Linked DNA regions of Homo sapiens. The protein of the gene in region 2 interacts with the protein of the main gene of each other region in a pairwise test. Each region holds a gene or a part of one and is shown on either strand. Other genes may lie near its edges. The genes, in order: KRTAP5-7, SCARF1, NEMP1 and GJA8.

Region 1 (6,199 bases), on a different chromosome or scaffold from region 2:
TTCTAGTTCTGATACCAACCTAATTATGCATTTGCTTTTTCCATACAGCATTCACAGCAGAATAACGACACCACTGCTGCCACCATGACTACTAAAAATAGCTTAGGAATTTTATTTTTGTGTTCTTTCTATGCTTAGGACATATCCCACCAATAAATTGCTGTGTTTCCAAATAACTTGAAATAATTCAACTCTATTAATATTGCCTTTTTTTTTTTTTGACGGAGTCTTGCTCTGTCGCCCAGAATGGAGTGCAGTGGCGCGACCTCGACTCATCACAACCTCCCCCTCCCAGGTTGAAGCCATTCTCCTCCCTCAGCCTCCGAAGTAGCCAGGATTACAGACACGTGCCACCACACTCAGCTAATTTTTATATTTTTAGTAGAGACAGGGTTTCACCATGTTGGCCAGTCAGGTCGCAAACTCCTAACCTCAAGTGATCCGCCTGCCTCGGCCTCCCAAAGTGCTGGGATTATAGGCGTGAGCCACTACGCCCGGCCCTTTCAAAATTCTTAAAAAGCAATATTGGCTTGGTGCTAGGAGTGTTTATTTACAGAGGCAACAGGCTGTGTAACAACAAAGACAATCAGAGTAAGTTGGTTACAAAAACTTCCCAAAGGAAGATGGCAGAGGCCTGGACCAGGGAAAGGAGGCAAGTCTGAACTCCCCAGAGTTTTCAGCAGCCTCTTCTGCTTCTGTGGCCCTGGCCTGAGGAACAGTCCTGTCTCCATCAGATCAATAGCTGGAAAGACCTAGGAAGAGAGGGGTTCTGAGAAAAGAGGGGTCAGCCAGGAAGGAGATGAGAGGCAGAGGAGACAGCCAGCCCCATCCTAGCACCTTCCAGCAACATCAGCATCAGACCCACGCAGTCCGAAACACAACAAGAACAAGAAAACAATAGCCATAGCCATAGTAATGACCCCGAACAACAGAGAAATCAGCAAGATATGTGTTTCAGTTTGTCGGCATGGTATTTTTATTAGTTTGCAACTTTTCATTTAAGATAAAGCAGAGTGTTGGACAGGCAAAGCCACTCCAAGGAAGCCTCTTAAACGCCCACCTTGTTGCAGGTGGGACACTCATGCCCAGCTGCTCCAGCTGGAAAAGACAGGACTTCAAGTGGGTTCAGGAGCTCAGGCCTCTGAATACACAAGCAAAGGCAAGGCTAGCGGGTGAGGGGTGATTCAGCCGCAGTTGCAGTTGACTTGGGAAGAGAATTTGTTAGGAGGGAATGGACATTAATTAGGGTGGACTCTCCTTAGGAAAAGGCAGGCAGATATGGCTTCATCTTATAGTGAGGAATGGACCCTGAGCAGTGGTTTGGGGCTCAACGATGAAGGACAGGTCACAGCTTCGGAAAATGGGGTTAGCAGGACTCACATGAGACCTGAGTCCAGAGCCTCAGATCTTACACTGGCAGCACACGGGGACACAGCAGCTAGACTGGGAGCAGCAGGGATTGCAGCAACTGGACTGGCAGCAGGATGACCCACAGCCTGAGGAACAGCAGCAGGGCTTACAGCAGCTGGACTGGCAGCAGCAGGGCTTACAGCAGCTGGACTGGCAGCAGGATGACCCACAGCCTGAGGAGCAGCAGCAGGGCTTATAGCAGCTGCACTGGGAGCAGCCACAAGAACCACAGCCCCCCTTAGAACCCCCACAAGAGCCACAGCCCCCCTTGGAGCCCCCACAGGAGCCACAGCCTCCCTTGGAGCCCCCACAGGAGCCACAGCTGGAGCAGGAACAGGCTGGCACACAGCAGCACACGGGCTTGCAGCAGCAGACGGGCACACAGCAGCTGGAGCCACATCCCCCACAGCCAGAGCCACAGCCCCCACAGCCGGAGCCACAGCCCCCACAGCCGGAGCCACAGCCTTCGGAACAGCCACAGCAGCCCATGGTTCTGGTGGATTGAGGGTGGAGCAGGTAGAGGAGCAGGTGAGAGGGAGGTGCAGGTGTGGAGCCCCCTGAGCCCGGGCTCTTTATATACCTGTCCAGAGGTCAGGCACAATACAGGGTCGCTTCCTTGTGACTGTTTACGCTATTTTTCCAGAGCTCTATTTTTTTTCCTCTTTGCTAGTGACTTCCTCCTGGCTCAGTTGAGCATCTACTTTCTTTGTTTACTAAATTTGTCTTTTTCCCTATTTGTTTTGGCCCCTACAATTGAAACCTCAGCTCCAGGCTGTCTGGTGCTTCCCGCAAAGCTCCAGGGTGCTGGTCACCTGCTCTCTGCTGACCACATGTGACCAATGGGCAACAGCCTTTGCCCACGTGCTCTCATCTTTCCTGTGTTGACTCCCCCAGGAATATTAATTTCACATTTTTAGATTTCAAAATTATCCATGGTCTTTATATTTTACTCATGCCATTCTCAGTTTTGCATTGCTCTAAAGAAATACTTGAAGCTGGGTAATTTATAAAGGAAAGGTTAGAATGGCTCATGGTTCTGCAGGCTGCACAAGCATGGCACCCACCTCTGCTCAGCTTCTGGGCAGGCCCTCAGGGAGCTTTTCCTCATGGTGGAAGGTGAAGCAGGAGCAGGCTCACCACATCGTGAGAGTGGGAGCAAGGGGTGAGGAGGGGCCACACACTTGCGAACAACCAGATCTGAGTGAACACACTCATCACCAAGGAGATGGCGCTAAGCCAGTCATGAGGGATCCGCCCCCATGACCTAAACACCTCCTTGCAGGCCCCTCCTTCAACACTGGGGATTACATTTCGACAAGAGATTTGGAGGGGACATCCCAACTGTATCATTATCCCCTTGACCCCTCAAATCTCATGTCCTTACATTGCAGAATAGAATCATCTCTTCCCAACAGTCCTCTCAATGTCTTGACTCATTCCAACATCAAGTCCAAAGTCCCAAGTCCAAGTCCCTTCCACCAATGAACTTGTGAAAATCAAAACACATTATTTACTTTGAAGATACATGAGGGTGGAGGCATTGGGTAAACATTCCCATTCCAAAAGGGAGAAATCAGCCCAAAGGAAGGGGCTACAGACCCCATGCATGTCTGAAATCCAGCAGGGCAGCCATTAAATCTTAAAGCTCCAAAATAATGTCCTTGGACTCCCAGTCCCACATCCAGGGTACACTGGAGTGAGGGGTGGGCTCCTAAGGCCTTGGGGAACTCCACCCTTGTGGCTTTGCAAGGTTCGCACCCTGCAGCTGCTCTCATGGGTTGGAGTTGTGTGCCTGCAGCTTCTCCATGCTCAAGATGTAAGCTGCCAGTGGCTCTACCATTCTGGGGCCTGGAGGATGGTGTCCTCCTCCCCACAGCTCAATTAAGCAATGCCCCAGTGGGGACTCTGTGTGGGCCTCCTACTCCACATTTCCCCTCTACACTGCCCTAGTATATATCCTCTGTGCGGGCTCTGCCCCTGCAGCAGGCTTCTGCCTGAGTGCCCAGGCTTTCTCATAAATCCTCTGCAATCTAGGTAGAGGATCCCAAGCCTCCTTCACTCTTGTATTCTACGCACCTACAGGCTTAACACCACATGGGAGCTACCAAGGCTTATGGCTTGCACCCTCTGAAGCCAGAGTTACATTTGGGGTCTTTTGAGCTGAGGCTGGAGCTGGAGTAGCCTATGTGTGGGGAGCAGTGCTCCAAGGCTATGCAGGGCAGTGAGGGCCTGGGGTGAGCCCCTGAAACCATGGTGTCCTCCTAGACCTCTAGGTCAGTGATGAGAGGGGCTGTCTCAAACACTTTTGAAATGCATTTGAAGTCTTTTCCAATTGTGTTGGCTATTAGCACTTGGGTTTTTTTGTTTGTTTTTTGAGTCATGCTAATATCTCTAGCAGGTGGTTGCTCTATAGCCTGCTTGGATTCCTCTCCTGATAATGCTTTTTCATTCTCTGCCACATGGCCATGCTGCAAAGTTTCCAAACTTTTACACTTTGATTCCCTTTTAAATATAAATTCCAACTTTAATTCATTTATGTGCTCTTGCATGTGAGAATACGATGTTAGATTCAGTCAGGCCACAGCTTGAATGTTTGCTGCTTAGAAATTTCTTCCACTAGATATCCTAAGTCATCACTCCTAAGTAGAAATTTTCAGAGCCCCCTAGGGCATGAAGCACAATATGGTCAAGCTCTCTGCCAAGGTGTAACACAAGTGATCTTTGTTTTAGTTTTCAGTAAGTTCCTCATTTCCATCTGAGACCTCATCAGGCTGGACTTCATTGTTCTTATCACTTTAATTATTTTGGACACAACCATTTAACCAGTCTCAAAGGAGTTCCCACCTTTTCCTCATCTTTCTGTCTTCTTCTGAGCCCTCCAAAAATCTTCCAATCTCTGGCCATTACCCAGTTCCAAAGTCACCTCCACATTTTCAGGTGACTTTATAGCAACATACCATTCCTGGTACAGTTTTCTGTATTTTTTGTGTTGCCATAAAGAAATATCTGAGGCTGGGTAATTTATAAATAAAAAAGGTTTAATTGGCTCCTGGTTCTGCTAGTTGTACAAGCATGGCACCGACATCTGCTCAGCTTCTGGTGAGGCCCTCAGGGAGCTTTTATTCATGGTAGAAGGCAAAGCAGGAGCAGGCATGCCACATGGTGACAGCTGAGAAAGAGAGAGCTGGTGGAGGGACAGAGGCCACACATTTTTTTTTTGAGATGGAGTTTTGCTCTTGTTACTCAGGCTGGAGTACAATGGCATGATCTCGGCTCACCGCAACCTCCGCTTCCCAGGTTCAAGTGATTCTCCTGCCTCAGCCTCCCGAATAGCTGGGAGTACAGGCATGCACCACCACACCTGGCTAATTTTGTATTTTTAGTAGAGACAGGGTTTCTCCCTGTTGGTCAGGCTGGTCTCGAACTCCTGACCTCAGGTGATCTGCCCACCTCAGCCTCCCAAAGTGTTGAGATGACATGCATGAGCCACCATGCCTGGTCAGTGCCACATATTTTTAAACAACCAGATCTTGCTCGAACTTATTCATCACCAAGGAGATGGTGCTAAACCATTCATGAAAAATCTACACCCATGATCCAAACACCTCCCAGCAGGCCCCACCAACATAAGATTTGGAGGAAGCATGCAAACTATATTACTGGGGATCACTTTTTTTTTTTTAGATGAAGTCTTCCTCTGTCACCTGGGCTGGATTGCAGTGACGTGACCACAGCTTACTGCACCTTCAAACTTCTGGGCTTAAGGAATCTTCCCGCCTTGGCCTCCTAGGTAGCTGGGAATATAGGCATGTATCACCATACCCAGCTAACTTTTAAACTTTTTGTAGAGATGGGGCCTTGCCATGTTGCTCTGGCTGGTCTCAAACTCCTGGCCTCCAGTGATCCTCCTACCTTGGCCTCCCAAAGTGCTGGGATTGCAGGTGTGAGCCACTGCACCCAGACAATATCCTTTCCTTTCCTATCCAAATAAGAATAATCTATCCTCATCTTGTTGTTTGTGGGGAATCTTTTCCCCTACTCAATTATTTCTGAAAATCTCACAAGTCTCTCTGCTGTTGTTTTCTCTCTTCCCCAGGCAGAGTGTTCACTCCTCTTAGGCTGCTTACTTCAGCTGCTCAGCTGGGTTCCCTGCTCAGTTGTACTCCATGTGGGGAGAGAGGTTCCTTTATGCCATGGTCTGCATGTGTCCCCCAAAATTCATGTATTAGAAACTTCATCCCCAATGCAAGAGTGTTGGGAGGTGGGGCCTAACAAAAGGTACTTGGAATGAATTAGTGCTGCTCCAAGAAGGACTTGAGAGAGGGCATTCACCCCTTTCTGTTCTTCTGCCATGTGAGGACAACATATTCATGCTCTCTTGCCCTTCTGCCTTCCAATATGTGAAGACACAGTAAGAAGGCCCACACCAGATATCAGCACCTTGATCTTGGACTTCCCAGCCTTCAGGACTCTGAGAAAGTACATTTCTGTTCTTTATCAATTACCCAGGTCAATTATTATCTTATAGCAGCAATAATGGACTGAGGCACTCTAGTCACAAAACCATTGCTTATATGAGGCTACTTTCTTTGTTTAAGGGATGCATGCTAAACCCTGAGGAGAGCATAAGAGGGGCACATTACTGAAAAGAAACTGAAGTCTGCTTACCAGATGTCCCTGCTCCTCAAATCTCTTGGCCGTGCGATTGGGCATTGTTTCACCAGTGTACTCACCTAAGAACACAGCAGCATGTCACCAATGTACTCGCCCAAGAATACAGCAGCATGTC
Region 2 (7,036 bases):
AGGCCTCAAAAATAGGGCAAGGAAGAGGGCAAGGATGAGGAGAGTGGCAGAAGGACCAATTCAGGTAGACACTGTTACTTCTACACTTTTTTTTTTTTTAATTGTAGAGATGGGGTCTCACTATGTTGGCCAGGCTGGTATCAAACCCCTGGCCTCAAGCAGTCCTCCCGCCTCAGCCTCCCAAAGTGCTGGGATCACAGGTGTGAGTCACCACACCTGGTCTCTATACTCTTTTCTCACCACCTCTCCCTACTTTGAAATACTGTCACACTCTTACCAAGCTAAAACTCTTTCGATGGCACACAGCCACATCCCTCTCACCTCTGGGCCTTTGTGTATGCTGTTCCATCTTCCTGAAACACCATTCCCTCCTCTCCCTGACTTTCACTTGGCCAACTCCTACTGATTCTGCTAGACTCGACTGGGATGCCACACACATCGTCCCTGACCCCAGTCACCCCAACATGGCTAGCAAATGAGTCCCTACTTGTATGTCCCCCATGGAAACACATATCACTGTGTCCTGTCATTGTCTGATGACTGCCCATCTGACTCTAAGCCTGGTGAGGATAGGAATCTGTCTTGTTATCTCTTGCATGCCCGGAGCCAAGAACAGTGACTAACACAAAATGGGCCCTTAATAACTGTTTGCTGGCCAGGCGCAGTGGCTCATGCCTGTAATCCCAGCACTCTGGGAGGCTGAGGCGGGTGGATCACGATCCTGGCTAACACGGTGAAACCCGGTCTCTACTAAAATATAAAAATTAGCCGTGTGTGGTGGTGCACGCCTGTAATCCCAGCTATTTGGGAGGCTGAGGCAGGGGAATCACTTGAACCCGGGAGGCAGAGGTTGCAGTGAGCTGAGATCGCACCACTGCACTCCAGCCTGGCGACAGAGCAAGACCCAGTCTCAAAAAAAAATAAAAATAAATAACTTTGCTGGAGGACTAAAGAGGGGGTCGTGGTGGGCAGGGCTGCTCAGGGGCTATGTGGGCTGTTGGGGGGCTACCTTCTTGGGGTGGCACACAGTAGGCAGGAACCTCATCTGCCTCTCCAGACTCAGGATCGGATGAGAAGGAGTCATCAGTGGCCCAGCCGGCAGAGGGCGGCTCGATGAAGCTGTGGTTGAAGGGGACCTCCGGGTCGTGATGTGAGACTGTAGAGACTCCAGATCAGGCGCCTGCAGGACCTGATGCAAAGCCCTGTCCAATCCCAGACCCCGGCCCCCAGCGCCCACTGACCTGTCACCCAGGGTAGCTTGTGGGAGCTGAGGGAACGGCAGGGCAGCGTGGAGCCCAAGCTGGTCAGTGTCCCCCAGACCTGCAGCTTCATCCTGGACACGGTAGCTCCATCTCTCGCTGGCCTGAGGGAGGAGGGTAGGGACACTGGTCAGTACATGAGACCCACGGTGACCTGGGTCACCTTGGCAGGGTGTGACAGGGTGACTGCCTCTACTTCAGTGGCTTCAGTGGCTCTCTATTGACTACAGAATAAAATCCAAATGATTGAGCCCACAATTCAGGCCTGCCACAGAACAAAGAGTGGCTCTAGAGTCAGACAGCCGAGTAACAACTCTGGTTCACACTTCACCTCCCTAGGCCTCAGTTTCCGCATCTGTAAAACAGATCCTATCTATCTATCTATCTATCTATCTATCTATCTATCTATCTATATCTATCCATCTATCTATCATCTATCTGAGCTTTTTGCAGGACCTGGCAGGTCTTTGTTATTATCATCCTAGCTGAGCCTCAGCTCACGTTTCTCTCTCTCTCTCTCTCTCTATTTTTGGGACAGAGTCTCGCTTTTGTTGCCCAGGCTGGAGTGCAGTGGTACGATCTTGGCTCACCGCAACCTTCGCCTCCTGGATTCAAGTGATTCTCCTGCCTCAGCCTCCTGAGTAGCTGGGATTACAGGCGTGCACCACCACACCCGGCTAATTTTGTATTTTTAGTAGAGACGGGGTTTCACCATGTTGGCCAGGCTGGTCTTGAACTCCTGACCTCAGGTGATCCACTCACCTTGGCCTCCCAAAGTGCTGGGATTACAGGCGTGAGTCACTGCGCCCGGCGCACCTGTCTCAAATGACACCCCCTCCAGGAAGCCTTCCCTTGTTCCCACTCTGCTCTACCCCCACATGTGGAGGAGACTGCTCTGCTCTTCACTGTTCCTCCAACAGCCTTTGCACCTGTCCTCGTGTCCCTGCGAGGGGCTTCTTCCCACCCTGGGCTCTATGCCCTGGGCCAGGGGCAACTGTATCTGCTCCTCTGTGAATGCCGCACAAGCACAGAGGAGGATGTGCTATTGGACTAGGGCAGGAACTAGTAAGAGAGCACCAGACAAAGAGTCCAAAAAGGTGGAGAGGGGCTTCCTGTGTGCCAGTACCAACTAGATCACCTTGGGCCTCAATGTCCTCTGGGAATTGAGGACATTTATCCTCCCGGCCCCACACTCCCTGTTCCAAACCTCCACGCTGCTGTGAGTCTCAAAGGAGCCTGGAATGTGACGAGGTTTCATAAAGGAACAAAGCTCTGCGTAAGCCCCCTGCGCGGGCCCCACCAGCCCAACCCTTCCTCCCCTCTCCGTCTCTCAGGCAGCTACACTCTCTGCTAAACCACTGCACAGACATTGATGTCTCTTTCCTTCGTGGGCCATCTGAGGCCTGGTCTCTTTCCCTCCTGGCCCAGAGCCGGGCTGCTCCTTCCGTGGTCCCAGCCCTCCTCCTCTGGTCCCCGCCGGTGTCAGCTTTCTGCCTCCCGCTGCAGGCTCCGGTTCGCCAGCCTGGTGCCCATGCAACTCAGAAACTTCCTCATTGAAGGCTTCCGAGGAGGGCAGGCAGCTGACCCGGTGTCTCCAGTGTCTCCAGGCCACGGGCACTGCCAACTACCTCCATCACCTCTGACCTACGTGGGCGACAAGGCCAGCCCTCCCCACCCCCATCACCTCTGACCCACGGGGGCGACAAGGCCAGCCCTCCCCACCCCCATCACCTCTGACCCACGTGGGCAACAAGGCCAGCCCTCCCCACCCCACAAGGAAACCAGATGCCCCCCTGCTCCCACCCTGTGGCCTGAGCTGTGTGGGGAAGGGACGGGCTGGCGTTCACCTGTCCTTGAGGTCTGATCGGGGGGCCCAGCAGCAGCAGGCACAGCAGGCAAGGCCCAGGAAGAGCAGCAGCAGAGGCACAAGGCTGCCCGCGATGAGGGCAGTGTCCCGACTGCCAGAGCCTGGGGGAGCCAGAAACGGGGGATATTCAGGCCTTCCTGTCTCCTACACATCCTGTCTTTGCTCTGAGTTGCCTGCTACCCAGAAGCTTCTTCCTGGGGGTCACTCCCTGCCTCCGGGCAGCCCCTCTGCTGGCGTGTCCCCTCCACAGGTTCTTGCCCCTGAGGCCATGTCAGTGTCCAGCCACCCCGCTGCCCATTTCACGGCTCTAGCCTGGTTTCGCAGGGGCGGGGGCTCTGTCACATCTTCAGGGGGCCCCAGAGCATCCACACAGAGCTCAGGTATAAAGAATGTCTCTGGGCCGGGCACAGTGGCTCACGTCTGTAATCCCAGCACTTTGGGAGGCCGAGGTGGGCAGATCACCTGAGGTCAGGAGCTTGAGACCAGCCTGGCCAACATGGTGAAACCCTGTCTCTACTAAAATATAAAAATTAGCCAGGCATGGAGGCGTGCGCCTGTAATCCCAGCTACTCGAGAGGCTGAGATGGGAGAATGGCTTGAACCTGGGAGGTGGAGGTTGCAGTGAGCTGACATCACACCACTGCACTCTGGCCTGGGTGACAGAGCAAGACCTCGTCTTAAGGGAAAAAAAAAAAAAAAAAAGAATATCTCTGAAGTGGGCCCAGACTCCCTGGTGAGGAACTTGCCCTGGAGCCCATGTGAAGGGCCCGCCTTTCCCTGGCTACTGCACCCCGCAGCCTTCTTCCACCTTACCTGGCTGGCAGGACCCAGAGACAGGGTGGCAGAGTCCCTCTGGGCATTCACAAGGAACTGAGCAGTTGTTTCCATGGAAACCGGCTGGGCAGGAGGCGTTGCAGCTATGGAGTGACATGGAGAGGCAGGCTGAGGGCTGGGTGAAGTGGGGGAGGCAGGCAGGAGACGGGCAGGGAGATTTCTGGGCACTGTCCAGGGAAGTTCAGGAAATGCTGCACAGAGCCCTGACCTAGGCCCCTGGCACTCTCCCGCCCCCGGGATCCCCATCCTTACCTGGGCCCCCAGTAGCCGGCACTGCAGACACAGTCCCCTGTCACAGTATCACAGGACCCCTGAACACAGGTGGGGCAGGTAGAGCCACAGTCTTCCCCAAAGGTACCAGTGGGGCAGGGGTCTTCACACCTGGGGTGAGGCAAGACTCGGGGAAGGGGAGACCAAGGCAGGCCTGGCCCCCACTGTGGGGCCCCACCCCTCCGCCCCACGCTCCTGGACTCAAGGACCCAACTGGCCACTCCTCAGCAGTGAAGCTCAGGTGCAAATAGGGCCTTGAACTTGGGGCCAAATCCAGCAGGTGACAGACTACAAGTCCCCAGAGGGCGAGGAGGGCAGGAAGCCTCAGAGGGGAGGGAGCTGGGATCCTGCCCAGGCCCCCCCAGAACCCACTGCTCTCCCCCAGTCTTCAACAGGAGGGAGGCCCCTGGGGCCGCATGAACCTGTGTGTCGGGGAGGGTGGTGCTCTCGGAGAGAGCCGCTGAGCTGAGGGTCCTGGGGGAAGGTGTACCCCACCCTGAACAGAATGGTGCCCTCACCTGGGCCCCAGCCAGCCAGGGTCACAGCGCTGACAGTGGCCAGTATCTGGCTCACAGGCCTCCCCATGTCGGCAGTGAGGGCACTGCTGTTCGCAGCTCTCGCCAAAGGTGCCAGGCAGGCAGGGCTGCTGGCACTGGGTCCCGTTCCAGCCCGGCTCGCAGGACTCACAGCTGCCTGTGTCTGGAGAGCACGGCTCATTGTGTTTGCAGCGGCCACAGCTGGGAAGAGAAGGGCTTCGTGGGAACAGTGGGGGTGGATGGATGGAGCGCCCACCCCCTCCTACCCCTGTACTCCACGCAGGCCTTCGGGGGCCCTGGAGAGTGTTCGGGTCCCACCTGGGTCAGGCAGGTTTGAGCCTCAGTTTCCCCACGTTGTACAATGAGGACAAATGAGGGCTCTTACAGGATCCCATCCCTTTCCTTCCAGGCATCTGCTCTGTGACCGTCTTTCCCTGGGTCCCAGGACCATCAGGAGCCAGCAGCCCAGCCAGGGCAGGCGAGTCACCACCAAGCTCTGAGTCCCATTTGCGAGGTCTGCCAGGCCTTCCCTCCTGCTCTTTTCACTTTTCCTTTTTCCACACTGAGCCGTCCCCAGGTCTGGCATGAATGGGACTCAGTAGTGTCTTCTACCCCATCACACGAAATGCAAAAAATGTAAAGTGTTTTCACCCAGGGGTCCTCAAACCCTGGGCCATGGACTGGTACTAGTCCGTGGCATGTTAGGAACTGGGCGACAGCGTAGAGATGACCAGCAGGGGAGCCTGACCGCCTGAGCTCCGCTGCCAGCCAGATCAGTGGTGGCCTCAGATTCTCATAGGAGCGCCAGTCCTATTGTGAACTGCGCACGGGAGGGTCCAGGTTCCATGCTCTTTACGAGGATCTAATGCCTGATGATCTGTCACTGTCTCCCATCACCCCCAGATGGGACCCTCGAGCTGCGGGAAAGCAAGCTCAGGGCTCCCACTGATTCTATATTATGGTGAGTCATATTATTATTTCATTATAGATTACAGTGTAATAATAGAAAAATTGTCTGCCATGAAACCAGTCCCTGGTGCCAAAAGGTTGGAGACCACTGTTGTCACCAATATAATTTCACATTTGCCATATCTTAATTTCCCATTGATGCCTAATAGTTACCTGAAGTTTCTCCCTCAGATGCTTAACTAGCTGGGATCATATACTTGGGTCAGACCCATTAGTAGGGGAGAAGAAGGGCAGTTTATAAAAGCCATTTAGCTGATCCTGACCAGCATTTTTATTTCTTATTTTATTTTATTATTATTTTCTTCAAGACTGAGTCTCACTCTGTCGCCCAGGCTGGCGTGCAGTGGCGCGATCTTGGCTCACTGCAACCTCCGCCTCCCGGGTTCAAGTGATTCTCCTGCCTCAGCCTCCCAAGTAGCTGGGATTACAGGCGCCCAACACCATGCCCGGCTAATTTTTGTATTTTTAGTAGAGACGAGGTTTCACCATGTTAGCCAGGCTGGTCTCGAACTCCTGACCTCAGGTGATCCGCCCGCCTCGGCCTCTCAAAGTGCTGGGATTACAGGCGTGAGCCACCGCGCCCAGCCAGGGATGAAATTTCTTACTGTGAGTGCAGCCAGTCAAAGTTTGAAAGCCACTGAGCCCTAAAGGGACCTTGCTCAGGACCCTTGGTCACTCGATCCACTTATTTATTATTTTTTTTGTAAGAAACCATTTTTTTAATTTTCTTTTTTTAAATATATTTATATATATTTTTTTATTATTATACTTTAAGTTTTAGGGTACATGTGCACATTGTGCAGGTTAGTTACATACGTATACATGTGCCATGTTGGTGTGCTGCACCCACTAGCTCGTCATCTAGCATTAAGTATATCTGCCAATGCTATCCCTCCCCCCTCCCCCCACCCCACAACAGTCCCCAGAGTGTGATATTCCCCTTCCTGTGTCCATGTGATTCCATTGTTCAACTCCCACCTATGAGTGAGAATATGCGGTGTTTGGTTTTTTGTTCTCGCGATAGTTTACTGAGAATGATGATTTCCAATTTCTTCCATGTCCCTACAAAGGACATGAACTCATCATTTTTTATGGCTGCATAGTATTCCATGGTGTATATGTGCCACATTTTCTTAACCCAGTCTATCATTGTTGGACTCGATCCACTTATTACCTACATATGGCTTGCTAGCAGTGCTAGTATATTTTGCACAGCAGTAATCAATGAAATGAGCAGGTGAGGCTGGACCTGGGGCAACAAAGCGTTTTTAAAAGTTTTTGTTTTGTTTTGTTTGAGACGG
Region 3 (7,046 bases), on a different chromosome or scaffold from region 2:
GAAATCCCACTCTACTAAAAATACAAAAAAATTACCCGGGCATGGTGGCACACACCTGTAATCCCAGCACTTTGGGAGGCTGAGGCGGGCAGATCACTTGAGGTCAGGAGTTTGAGACCAGCCTGGCCAACATGGCGAAATCCCACTCTACTAAAAATACAAAAAAATTACCCGGGCATGGTGGCACACACCTGTAATCCCAGCTACTCGGGAGGGTGAGGTAGGAGAATCGCTTGAACCTAGGTGGCCGAGATGGCACCACTGCACTCCAGCCTGGGCAACAGAGCAAGACTCCATCTCAAAAAAATAAATAAATAAATAAATAAAAATGTATACACAAAGATGTTCACAAACTTACAACAATGAAAAACTAGAAATACCACAAATATCCAACCAACAGTACAAACCACCAATATCCAACCAAATGTTTAATCCACAACATTAATAATGATTTTTACCAGGCAGATGGCACGTGCCTGTAGTCCCAGCTACTTGGGGAGACCGAGGTGGGAAGTTACAGTGAGCTATGATTGTGCACTGCACTCTAGCCTGGGTGTCACAGCAAAACCACGTCACTAAAAAATAATAAATGAAGGCCAGGCATGGTGGCTCACGCCTGTAATCCCAGTACTTTGGTAGGCTGAGGCGGGCGGAACACCTGAGGTCAGGAGTTCGAGACCAACCTAGCCAACATGGTGAAACCCCATCTCTACTAAAAATACAAAATTAGCTGAGTGTGGCTGGGCGTGGTGGCTCACGCCTGTAATCCCAGCACTTTGGGAGGCTGAGGTGGGCAGATCACGAGGTCAGGAGTTTGAGACCAGCCTGGCCAGCCTGGTGAAACCCCGTCTGTACAAAAAATACAAAAAGTTAGCCAGGCATGGTGGCATGCGCCTATAATCCCAGCTACTCGGGAGGCAGAGGGAGAAGTGCTTGAACTCTGGAGGCTGAGGTTGCAGTGAGCCTAGATAGTGCCATTGCACTCCAGCCTAGGCAACGAGGGCGAAACTCTGTCTCAAAAAAAAAAAAATTAGCCGAGTGTGGTGGCACATGCCTGTAGTCCCAGCTACTTGGGAGGCTGAGATGGGAGAATGGCTTGAAACAGGAACCGAGATTGCACCACTGCACTCCAGCCTGGGCCAGACAGCAAGACTACATTCTGCGGGGCGGGGCGGGCGGGGGGTGGAGAAAAAAAATTAAATGAACATCTGCACATACATTGGAATGTAATACAAGTAAGACAACATTTACAAAGAATTTTAAGGCCGGGTGTGGAGGCTCATGCCTGTAATCCCAGCACTTTGGGAGGCCGAGGCGGGCGGATCACGAGGTCAGGAGATCAAGACCATCCTGGCTAACACGGTGAAACCCCCTCTCTACTAAAAATACAAAAAATTAGCCGGGCGTGGTGGTGGGCGCCTGTAGTCCCAGCTACTCGGGAGGCTGAGGCAGGAGAATGGCGTGAACCTGGGAGGCGGAGCTTGCAGTGAGCCGAGATCTGGCCACTGCACTCCAGCCTGCGCGAAAGAGGGAGACTCTGTTTAAAAAAAAAAAAAAAAAATTAGCCGGGCGTGGTGGCGGGCAAGTGTAATCCCAGCTACTCAGGAGGCTGAGGCAGGAGAATCATTTAAACCCAGGAGGCGGAGGTTGCAGTGAGCTGAGATTGCACCACTGCACTCCAGCCTGGGCAACAAGAGCAAAACTCCATCTCAAACAAACAAACAAACAAAAAAACAAAAAAAGAATTTTAAATTACTTGGGAAAATTATTGTACTACAAAATCAAACGAGAAAACTATCTCTGGTAACGACTGGCAGCCTCCAGGGAAGAGAACTAGAGTACTAACTGGATACAAATTATCAATTCATAAAAAATTAAAAATATGTGGAAAAAGATCAGAAGAAAGTGTGCTAAAATAGATTGCTTCTGAATGGATTAACAGTGTGGTTTCTGCCTGCTTCTTTATACTTAATTGTACCTTGCCAAATCATCTAAAATAAACATGCATTATTTGGCCGGTCACGGTGGCTCACACCTGTAATCCCAGCACTTTGGGAGGGCCAAGGCGGATGGATCACGAGGTCAGGAGTTCGAGACCACCCTGGCCAACATAGTGAAACCCCATTTCTACTAAAAATACAAAAATTAGCCGGGCGCGGTGGCGGGTGCCTGTAATCCCAGCTACTCCGGAGGCTGAAGCAGGAGAATTGCTTGAACCCAGGAGGCGGAGGTTGCAGTGAGCGAGATCGCACCACTGCACTCCAGCCTGAGTGACAGAGCTAGACTCCATCTCGCGGGCCGGGGGCGGTAAGGAATCAAGGTTTTACAAGAGCAGAAGATAGTAGAGATCACTGCATTTCTGTCAACTACATCCGTTCTGCCACCCGTGCCCTGCGTCCTGACAGAGCATACGCTCAGATGGTGTTTGCTGATTTGCCGAATGAATGAGATGGTCCCTTTCCCGCGGCTGCTCTGCCTGCCCAGAATGGTCCCCAGGTTTTCTCGCTTTTAACCAAGAAACTCAAGGCTTCTGCAACGAGACACAGCCCCCAGGACTGCTTCTCAACCAGTCTAGGCCTCCCTTCCTGTCTCCGCCAAAAGGCTTCAGGCTCCTCCCCACTCTGGAAGCTGCCCCAGCCCGCTTCAGGGCCCAGACCCTCAGTCCCGACGCCCACTAGCCTGCCAAGTTTCTTCCACCACACTACGCCGGCGGCCCTCGGTAGAGCCACCGCCCTTCTGCAGAGTAACGGCCCGCGCCCTCGGGACAATCCCTTTTCCAAAAATAACCCCCTCGGCACCTGCCCCCTTGGCAGCTGCTGCCCGGGCGGTACCTGTGCCGTAGACCAAGCAGCCGGAGAGGATCAAGAGTAGCCGCACTGTCCCACCGCCCCCGACTCCCGAGCCCCAGGGCCCGGGACCAACTGCCGGCGAGACCGCCACTTTCATTCCTCCCGCCATGGTTGCCTCAAGCCACCTCCTCCTCACGTGCCTTACCCCAGCAACTAACTCCGAACGGGCAACGACAGCAGCCTATCCTCTACGAAACCCGCCCCTATCAACCAATGGGATGGGCAGGGCTTCGAGCACCCAGCCCTCCAAGGGCCCTATGAGTCCCGCCCCTTAGCAACTGAAGAGAGAGGGCGGGAAAAGCAGCTTTCAGCCTATTGGAAAATGGGTTCTCACCCTAGCAGTGGCGACAGGAAGATCCCACCCCGCTAACAACATGCTTCCGTCTTCAGTTTATTTACAACTGGTGTGATTGATGGTAAGTTTAACCAATAGAAAATCGGAATGGGAGAGGCCTCCTTGACCAAACTCGGTATTTCCATAGAAGCTGTCTGAAGTTCCTTCCGTTTTCTTTCGGTTACTTTTTATCACGACCTTTCTGTTATGAGACGCCTACAATTGAGATCGCTTTATGAGTAGGACCCTGATAGGACGATTTTTAAAGTCGACTGACAAAAGTGTGGTTCTCCAAAGTCCTAAAGGATTTAAAATAGAAGTCACAAAAAAGTGTGTGTCAATATTTTATAAGCATAAACATTAGCTTTTAAAAATGTATTCATAGGATTTTTATTTTTGGAAGTAAAATTAATGTTAGGATTAAGAAAGATTCATTTATTCCTCTTATCATCTTGTGAGACAAATATAATTCTCTCCATTTAAGAAGCCAAAGCCAAGACAGCCACAGGAACCTGCCCAAGATTTCATAGTTCATCTGGTCTGTGATCCCAACCTAAATCCTACTGACTCCAAAGCCGGAGTTATTTATATGGATTAGCTGCTTCCCATTCAATGATTTAACACAGGGCCCAGCAGAGATCCAGGTGTTCAGAAACTGTTAGTAGAAATTGAAACTTTTTTTTTAAGAGGATCTGATGGTGATGGGTAGGAAAACTACAGATGATAGAGCCAAATGAATTGAGGAATTCAAGGAAGGGGGCATCTCCTGGGGAAGGTTCAAGCTTTCAAAACAAGAATTTTTTTTTTTAATGTTTTTAGAGACAGGGTCATTCTCTGACACCCAAGCTGGAGTGCAACAGCACCATCACAGCTCAGTGTAACCTTGAATTCCTGGACTTAAACCATCTTCCCACCTCAGCTTCCTAGATAGGTTGGGCTACAGGGATGCACCACCATGCCCAGCTATTTGTTTGTTTCATTGTTGTTGTTGTTGTTGTTGTTGTTATTGAGACAAGGTCTCCTTCTGTAACCCTTCTGGAATGCAGTGGTGTAACCACAGCTCACTGCAGCCTCGAACTCCCAGGATCAAATGATCCTCCCACTTCAATCTCCCAAGTAGCTGGGACTACAGGCATGAGCCACTATGTCTGGCTTAATTTTTTTTAATTACTTTTTGTAGAGACAATATCTTGCTATGTTGCCCAGGCTGACCTCAAACTCCTGGCCTCAAGTGATTATCCCACCTTGGCCTCCCAAATTACTGAAATTACAGGAGTAAGCTACTGCACCTGGTCTAAAACAAGGACCTTTTTAAAAGTCAAAATGGGCCGGGCATGGTGGCTCAGGTCTGTAATCCTAACACTTTGGGAGTCCGAGGCGGGTGGATCAACTGAGGTCAGGAGTTCGAGACCAGCCTGGCCAACATGGCAAAACCCCGTCTCTACTAAAAATACAAAAATTAGCCAGGCATGGTGGTAGGTGGCTGTAAGCCCAGCTACTCAGGAGGCTGAGGCAGGAGAATCCCTTGAACCCAGGAGGCGGAGGCTGCAGTGAGCCAAGATCGCCCCATTGCACTCCAGACTGGGTGACAGAGCAAGACTCTGTCTCAAAAGAGAAAAAAAAAAAAAGTCAAAATGGGCTGGGCATGGTGGCTCATGCCTGTAATCCCAGCACTTTTGGGAGGTTGAGGTGGGAGGATCACTTGAGGCCAGAAGTTCGAGACCAGCCTGGCCAACACAGCAAAACCCTATCTCTAATAAAAATACAAAAATTAGCCCAGCATGGTGGCAGGTTCCTGTAATCCCAGCTACTTAGGAGTCTGAGACAGAAGAATTGCTTGAGCCCAGGAGGCAGAGGTTGCAGTGAGCCGAGATCATGCCACTTCACTCCAGCCTGGGTGACAGAGCGAGCCTCTCTTGTCTCAAAAAAAAAAAAAAAAAGTCAAAATGGGGCTGAGCTATGGGCAAGAGAAGAGATTTCATTCTCAGAAGGAAAAGTCTAGGCCAACAGTGCTGATATGGTCATCCTGTATTTCACACACACACTCCCTCAGCTGACCTAGGGAAGTCAGCATCAATCATGTTGATACTATGTACCCTTGATAACATGAGATGAAAATGGCATTTTAACTCTGTGGTTTTCCTTCCCAAAACCCATAACACCACTCTAATCTTGAGAAAAACATTAGACAAATTCCAATAGAGGCATCCTACAAAATACCTGACCAGTACTCCTCAAAGCTGTCAAAGTCATCCAAACATCATTATGGGCTTTTTTGTTTTTGTTTTTTGAGACAGAGTTTCACTCTTGTTGAGCAGGCTGGAGTGCAATGGCACAAACTTGGCTCACCGCAACCTCCCCCTCCCAGGTTCAAGCGATTCTCCTGCCTCAGCCTCCCAAGTAGCTGGGATTACAGGTGTGTGCCACCCCGCCCAGCTAATTTCATATTTTTAGTAGAGATGGGGTTTCTCCATGTTGGTCAAGCTGGTCTTGAACTCCCGACCTCAGGTGATTTGCCCGCCTCGGCCTCCCGAAGTGCTGGGATTACAGGCATGAGCCACCATGCCCAGCCCATTATGTTTTTGAGAACTAAACATAATGTGGTGGTCTAGATGGGATCCTGGAACAGAAAAACACATTAGTTTAAAAAAACGAGGCTGGGCACGGTGGCTCATGCCTGTAATCCCAGCACTTTGGGAGGCTGAGGCGGGCGGATCATGAGGTCAGGAGATGGAGACCATCCTGGCTAACATGGTGAAACCCCGTCTCTACTAAAAATAAAAAAAATTAGTCGGGCGTGGTGGCAGGTACCTGTAGTCCCAGCTACTCAGGAGGCTGAGGCAGGAGAGTGGTGTGAACCTGGGAGGCGGAACTTGCAGTGAGCTGAGATCGCTCCACTGCACTCCAGCCTGGGCGACAGAGCAAGACTCCGTCTCAAAAAATAAGAAAACAAAAAAAAACACGGAGGCTGAGCATGGTGGCTCACGCCTGTAATCCCAGCACTTTGGGAGGCCAAGGCGGGCGAATCACGAGATCAGGAGTTCAAGACCAGCCTGGCCACCATAGTGAAACCCCGTCTCTACTAAAAATACAAAAATTAGCTGGGCGTATGGCGGGCACCTGTAAACCCAGCTACTCAGGAGGCTGAGGCAGGAGAATCACTTGAACCTGGGAGGCGGAGGTTGCAGCAGTGAGCCAAGATCAGTGCCACTGCACTCCAGCCCGGTGACAGAGTAAGACTCAGTCTAAACAACAACAACAACAACAAAAACTCAAAGGAAATCTGAATAAACTGTAGACTTTAGTTAATAATAATGTTTCAATACTGTTTCATTAATGGTGCTAAATGTACCATACTAATGTCAGATAATAATTGAGGAAATTGAATGTAGGGTATATAGGAATTCACCATATTATCTTTTCAATTTTTCTGTACATGTAATGTTTCTAAAAATAAAGTTGGCTAGCCTCAGTGGTTCACACCTGTGATCCCAGCACTTTAGGAGACCGGGTCTGAGGATGGCTTGAGCCCAGGAATTCAAGACCAGCCTGGGCAACATAGTAGGACTCTGTCTTTACAAAAATACAAAAATTAGCCAAGTGTGTTGGCACGTGCCTGTAGTCCCAGCTGCTCAGGAGGCTGAGATGGGACGATCACTTGAGTCTGGGAGGTTGAGCCTGCAGTGAGCCATGATCATGCCTCTGCACTCCACCCTGGGTGACAGAGTAAGACCTTGTTGCTAAAAAAATGAATAAATTGGGCAGGTGCAGTGGCTCATGCCTGTAATCCCAATGTCTTGGGAGGCCGAGGCAGGTGGATCACTTGAGCCTAGGAGTTTGAGACCAGCCTGGGCAACATAGTG
Region 4 (4,011 bases), on a different chromosome or scaffold from region 2:
TTCCAACTTTCACAGCCCCATTCTCTCCCTTGCATTAGAACAGGCCTGTCTTGCAACTTATGTCACCTGTCTGTATTCTGTAGGCTTTTGAGTCTGGATCCCTGAAATATGGTCACATGGTATCTGCTTCAGAAATGCTGGGATGATAGATTCTGGCTTAGTGAGCTTGAGACAAGATGGGTAAAAGGCTATGAGGCAACCCCAATTCCGATTTAAGGGTTTCTATGGAGAAATGGGGATGAAAGAAGAGTCACCCATAGCTGCTGGGGTTGGAGGAGCGGGGTAGTCCTATGAGACTGGGGAACTTTAGTGGGTCGATGGGTTTATCTTGGTAGCCCTTATGCTGGATGTGGGAAAGACTGTTTCCTAGAGTTGCCTGGAGTGCACTGCCCTGCTGCAGTGCCTGTCCAACCAGAGGCTGGTGGGAGGACAGGAGACAGAAGATTCAGATCATGTTGGCACCTGTTCCTTTCATCTTGCCCTACGTAAGCTTGGGCGTTTTTTTTTTTTTCTTTGGCGTCACTTCATACGGTTAGATCGTCTGACCTGGCTCGGCTGCTGGCTTTGCTTAGCCTGCTCAGGGGTCTGGCATCATCTGTTGTCAGCTCTGGACAGAGTGAAGGTGTCTTCTCAGCTGGCAGCCCTTGCTTTGACACCTTCTCCGACTGCGGCTCTTCTTTTTCACCCTCCTTATCCACTCCGGGGGTCTCTACTTTCTCCCCCTCTGGCACGGCCACCTTCTCCTGCTCCTCCGTGGTCAGCCTCTCTGCTTCCTCCTTCTTCTCTCCCACCTCGGGTTCGGCTCCCTCCTCTGCAGGCGGCCCCTCGCCCTCCACTTCTTGTGCCCCCACCTGAGCGTAGGAAGGCAGTGTCTCTTGGTAGCCCCGGGACAAGTCCCCCAGGGGTCCTGTGCTGATCTTCTCCTCGAACTGATTGAAAGGCTTGGCAGGCAGTGGGCTGGTCTCCACCATCCCAACCTCGGTCAAGGGGAAATAGTGGGAAACGATTTTCTCTTCTTCTAGGAGCTGATAGCCCTTGGCTTTCTGGATGGAGGAGACAGCAATGGAGTGGAGGGATTTCTCAGGAATCTCCCCCAGGGGCTGCTCTACAGGCCTCTTCAAGGCAGACCGGATCCCCTTCAGGCCCAGGTGGCCCAACTCCATCACGTTGAGGAATAGGGACACAGAGGCCACAGACAACATGAACAGGATGAAGATGGTTTTCTCCGTGGGCCGGGACACGAAGCAGTCCACCACATTGGGGCAGGGCCACCGGCTGCAGCGGTACAGAGGCAGGATCCGGAACCCGTACAGGAAGTAGTGGCCCACGATGAAGCCCACTTCAAAGAGGGTCTTGAAGATGATGTGGCAGATGTAGGTCCTCAGCAGGGTCCCCTCCAGCCGGAACTTCTTAGTGCCTTTGCTGCCGCTGCTCTTCTTGACGCTGCCCTGGTCCGGGCCGCCGTTAGTCCCCGCCTGCTGGCCCAGCTCCTCCGCCTCGCGGCTTTTGCGCTTCTCCTCCATGCGGACGTAGTGCACCGCGTGCCCCACGTACATCAGGGACGGGGTGGAGACGAAGATGATCTGCAGCACCCAGAGGCGAATGTGGGAGATGGGAAAGGCCTCGTCGTAGCAGACGTTCTCGCAGCCAGGCTGCTGGGTGTTGCACACGAAGTCGGATTGCTCATCCCCCCACACGAACTCTGCGGCCGTGCCAAGGATGAGGATCCGGAAGATGAAAAGCACGGTGAGCCAGACTCTGCCGATGACGGTGGAGTGCTCATTCACCTCCTCCAAGATGTTCCCCAGGAAACTCCAGTCGCCCATTTCTCACCCACCTGAAGAAATGAGGGAGAAGGCAAGAGCTGAGCGGCCGCAATGCAACCCTGAGTCAATATCTGTTTTTGCTAACGCGGGGTACCTCTCCTTTCCAAGTTGCCAGAACGGTCAATGTGCACACAGCGTCTATCCAGTGCTTCCTTTGTGCAGACTAGGACTAGAGAACAAAGAAGGCCCCGAAGAATGTGCTTCCATCCGCTTCCTCATCTGTAAAATGGGTTTAATAATAATAATACCTATTCTCATTCACTTCACAAATGGTCTGAAAGCATCAATGAGGCAATATTTGTATAATTCCTTAAAGTCCACCAAAAATAAGGATTCATTGTTGACCATAAATAGAAACCCTTGGTTACATGGATTTAAATCAAGACCACACACTGATCTAAGTTTCGTGAGACATAATGCTGAAGAGTTCCCTTATACTATGGGTGTCTGGGCTCCCAACACAATTCTTGTATGTATGAAATTGTCTGTGGCCATCTTATGTTTGAGTGTCAGAATATATAATGATCGTATATTTGAAGGGAAGTGGAAGGGGATTAGCATTTATTGAATACCAACTTTGTGAAAGAACTTTGACATTATATTATTTCATTTAACTTGATCCTGCTAGACTGTAATTTCCATGACGGTAGGAGCCATGCCTGTCTTATTTACAGCTATATACTCAATGCCTGACATACAGCCCAGCACACAGTGAGAACTTGATAAGTATTTGTTAACTAAGTTGATTCCAACAAATAAGAAAACTGAAGGCCAGGCACAGTGGCTCATGCCTGTAATCCTAGAACTTTGGGAGGCCAGGGCAAGAGAATCACTTGAGCCCAGGAGATAGAGACTAGCCTGGGCAACACAGTGAGACCCCATCTCTACAAAAAACTTTAAAAACTAGCTGGGCTCGGTGGTGCATGCCTGTGTTCCCAGCTACTTGGGAGGCTGAGCCAGGAAGATTGCTTGAGCCTGGGAGGTCGAGGTTGCAGTGAACCCTGATATGTGCCACTATACTCCATCCTGGGCAACAGAGAAAGACCCTGTCTCAAAGGAAAAAGAAAAAAAAGAAAAAAGAAATCTGAGGCTCAGAGAGGCTAAATATATTGTCCAAGATTAGACAGCTAAATAGCAGCAGTTCTGTTTGCTTGATCACAAAGGCTGGGTTCTTCCCACTACACCATTGAGATAAACTGCCTGCAATCAAAGCTACACAATTCTTTGACTTCTGTGCTCTTAATTTATGTTTCCTCTTCTCTAGGTTGAAATCTGGAAACCCTTATTAATAGCTTTACACATTGAGGGCCGTATATTTTTATTATTACTCTTTTAAATCCAAAGAACAGAGAGAATGCTTTGGGAAGGAATCATGTCACAGGATGAGGAAGGTCTTCTAGGACACTTTTAGTGTCCTATGGAATGAAAATGTTTCAGGGTCTGTAACATATGGCTGTTTTAATAGAGTCAAAAATTTGGTCTATAGAAAAAATATCGTTAAACATGATAGTATATAATGCCTGTAGCACAGCAATGGCTAATGGAAATGGCATTGAGCTGACAAGGGGCTGGCTGCAACTGGGTCATTCATCCAGTGCAAACCTGTAACCTATAAAGAATGATGAGCAAAACTTCCACCTCAATGGAGAACAGTTGTTCCTGCAGCTTGAACATCTCTAGAGTTATAAGTTTACTCATCACTGCCCTCAGACCAGGGCAAGAGCCCATGTTAGAGGATCTTGCTCTGGGCTTCTTCTAGCCATGCCCCATGCTATAGGCCTAGGAACCTATGGGGCTAAAGGGATATGCCTATTGTTTTTTAATCACAGTGATATTTGTTAAACACAAAAGCCTATTTCCAACCTGTGATTTGGAGTCTGGCCAGACAGAACCTGGTGGCAGGATACTAATTGCAGGCATCTGCAATGTCCAGCCTGTGCTGTCAGGGCAGGCACAATAGCTGTTCGCTTCTTGTGGGAGAGCAGAGAGTGCTCCTCCTCTTGAGGCCTCATAAGCTCCCAATCAGGCAGGGCATCCTGCAGCAGCTTCTCTTCTCCTGAAAAAGTGACAGCAGCTGTGGCATCCCCAGTCATGGGTCTGGCATTGGGAAGAGTTCCTTGGAGAAATGGGTAATGGAGAGGGGGAAGGACCCAGCAGCTCGGAATCGGAACCAGCAACTCAATCC

The links.
Region 1: the proteins of SCARF1 (region 2) and KRTAP5-7 interact in binary tests that used the Homo sapiens proteins (3 or more experiments, as listed by UniProt).
Region 3: the proteins of SCARF1 (region 2) and NEMP1 interact in binary tests that used the Homo sapiens proteins (3 or more experiments, as listed by UniProt).
Region 4: the proteins of SCARF1 (region 2) and GJA8 interact in binary tests that used the Homo sapiens proteins (3 or more experiments, as listed by UniProt).

Annotation. Positions count from the first base shown.
Region 1 is NC_000011.10:71,523,001-71,529,199, reverse strand, and holds KRTAP5-7 (keratin-associated protein 5-7), read right to left. Parts: upstream 1,934-6,199; 5' UTR 1,900-1,933; coding exon 1,402-1,899; 3' UTR 531-1,401; downstream 1-530. UniProt on the Homo sapiens protein: In the hair cortex, hair keratin intermediate filaments are embedded in an interfilamentous matrix, consisting of hair keratin-associated protein (KRTAP), which are essential for the formation of a rigid and resistant hair shaft through their extensive disulfide bond cross-linking with abundant cysteine residues of hair keratins.
Region 2 is NC_000017.11:1,635,700-1,642,735, forward strand, and holds part of SCARF1 (scavenger receptor class F member 1 isoform 1 precursor), read right to left. Parts: intron 4,968-7,036; coding exon 4,749-4,967; intron 4,342-4,748; coding exon 4,213-4,341; intron 4,044-4,212; coding exon 3,940-4,043; intron 3,228-3,939; coding exon 3,107-3,227; intron 1,364-3,106; coding exon 1,242-1,363; intron 1,157-1,241; coding exon 1,010-1,156; intron 1-1,009. UniProt on the Homo sapiens protein: Mediates the binding and degradation of acetylated low density lipoprotein (Ac-LDL). Mediates heterophilic interactions, suggesting a function as adhesion protein. Plays a role in the regulation of neurite-like outgrowth.
Region 3 is NC_000012.12:57,075,788-57,082,833, forward strand, and holds the start of NEMP1 (nuclear envelope integral membrane protein 1 isoform a precursor), read right to left. Parts: upstream 3,005-7,046; 5' UTR 2,959-3,004; coding exon 2,832-2,958; intron 1-2,831. UniProt on the Homo sapiens protein: Together with EMD, contributes to nuclear envelope stiffness in germ cells. Required for female fertility. Essential for normal erythropoiesis. Required for efficient nuclear envelope opening and enucleation during the late stages of erythroblast maturation.
Region 4 is NC_000001.11:147,905,771-147,909,781, reverse strand, and holds the end of GJA8 (gap junction alpha-8 protein), read right to left. Parts: intron 2,627-4,011; exon of another isoform or gene 1,838-2,626; 5' UTR 1,827-1,837; coding exon 525-1,826; 3' UTR 513-524; downstream 1-512.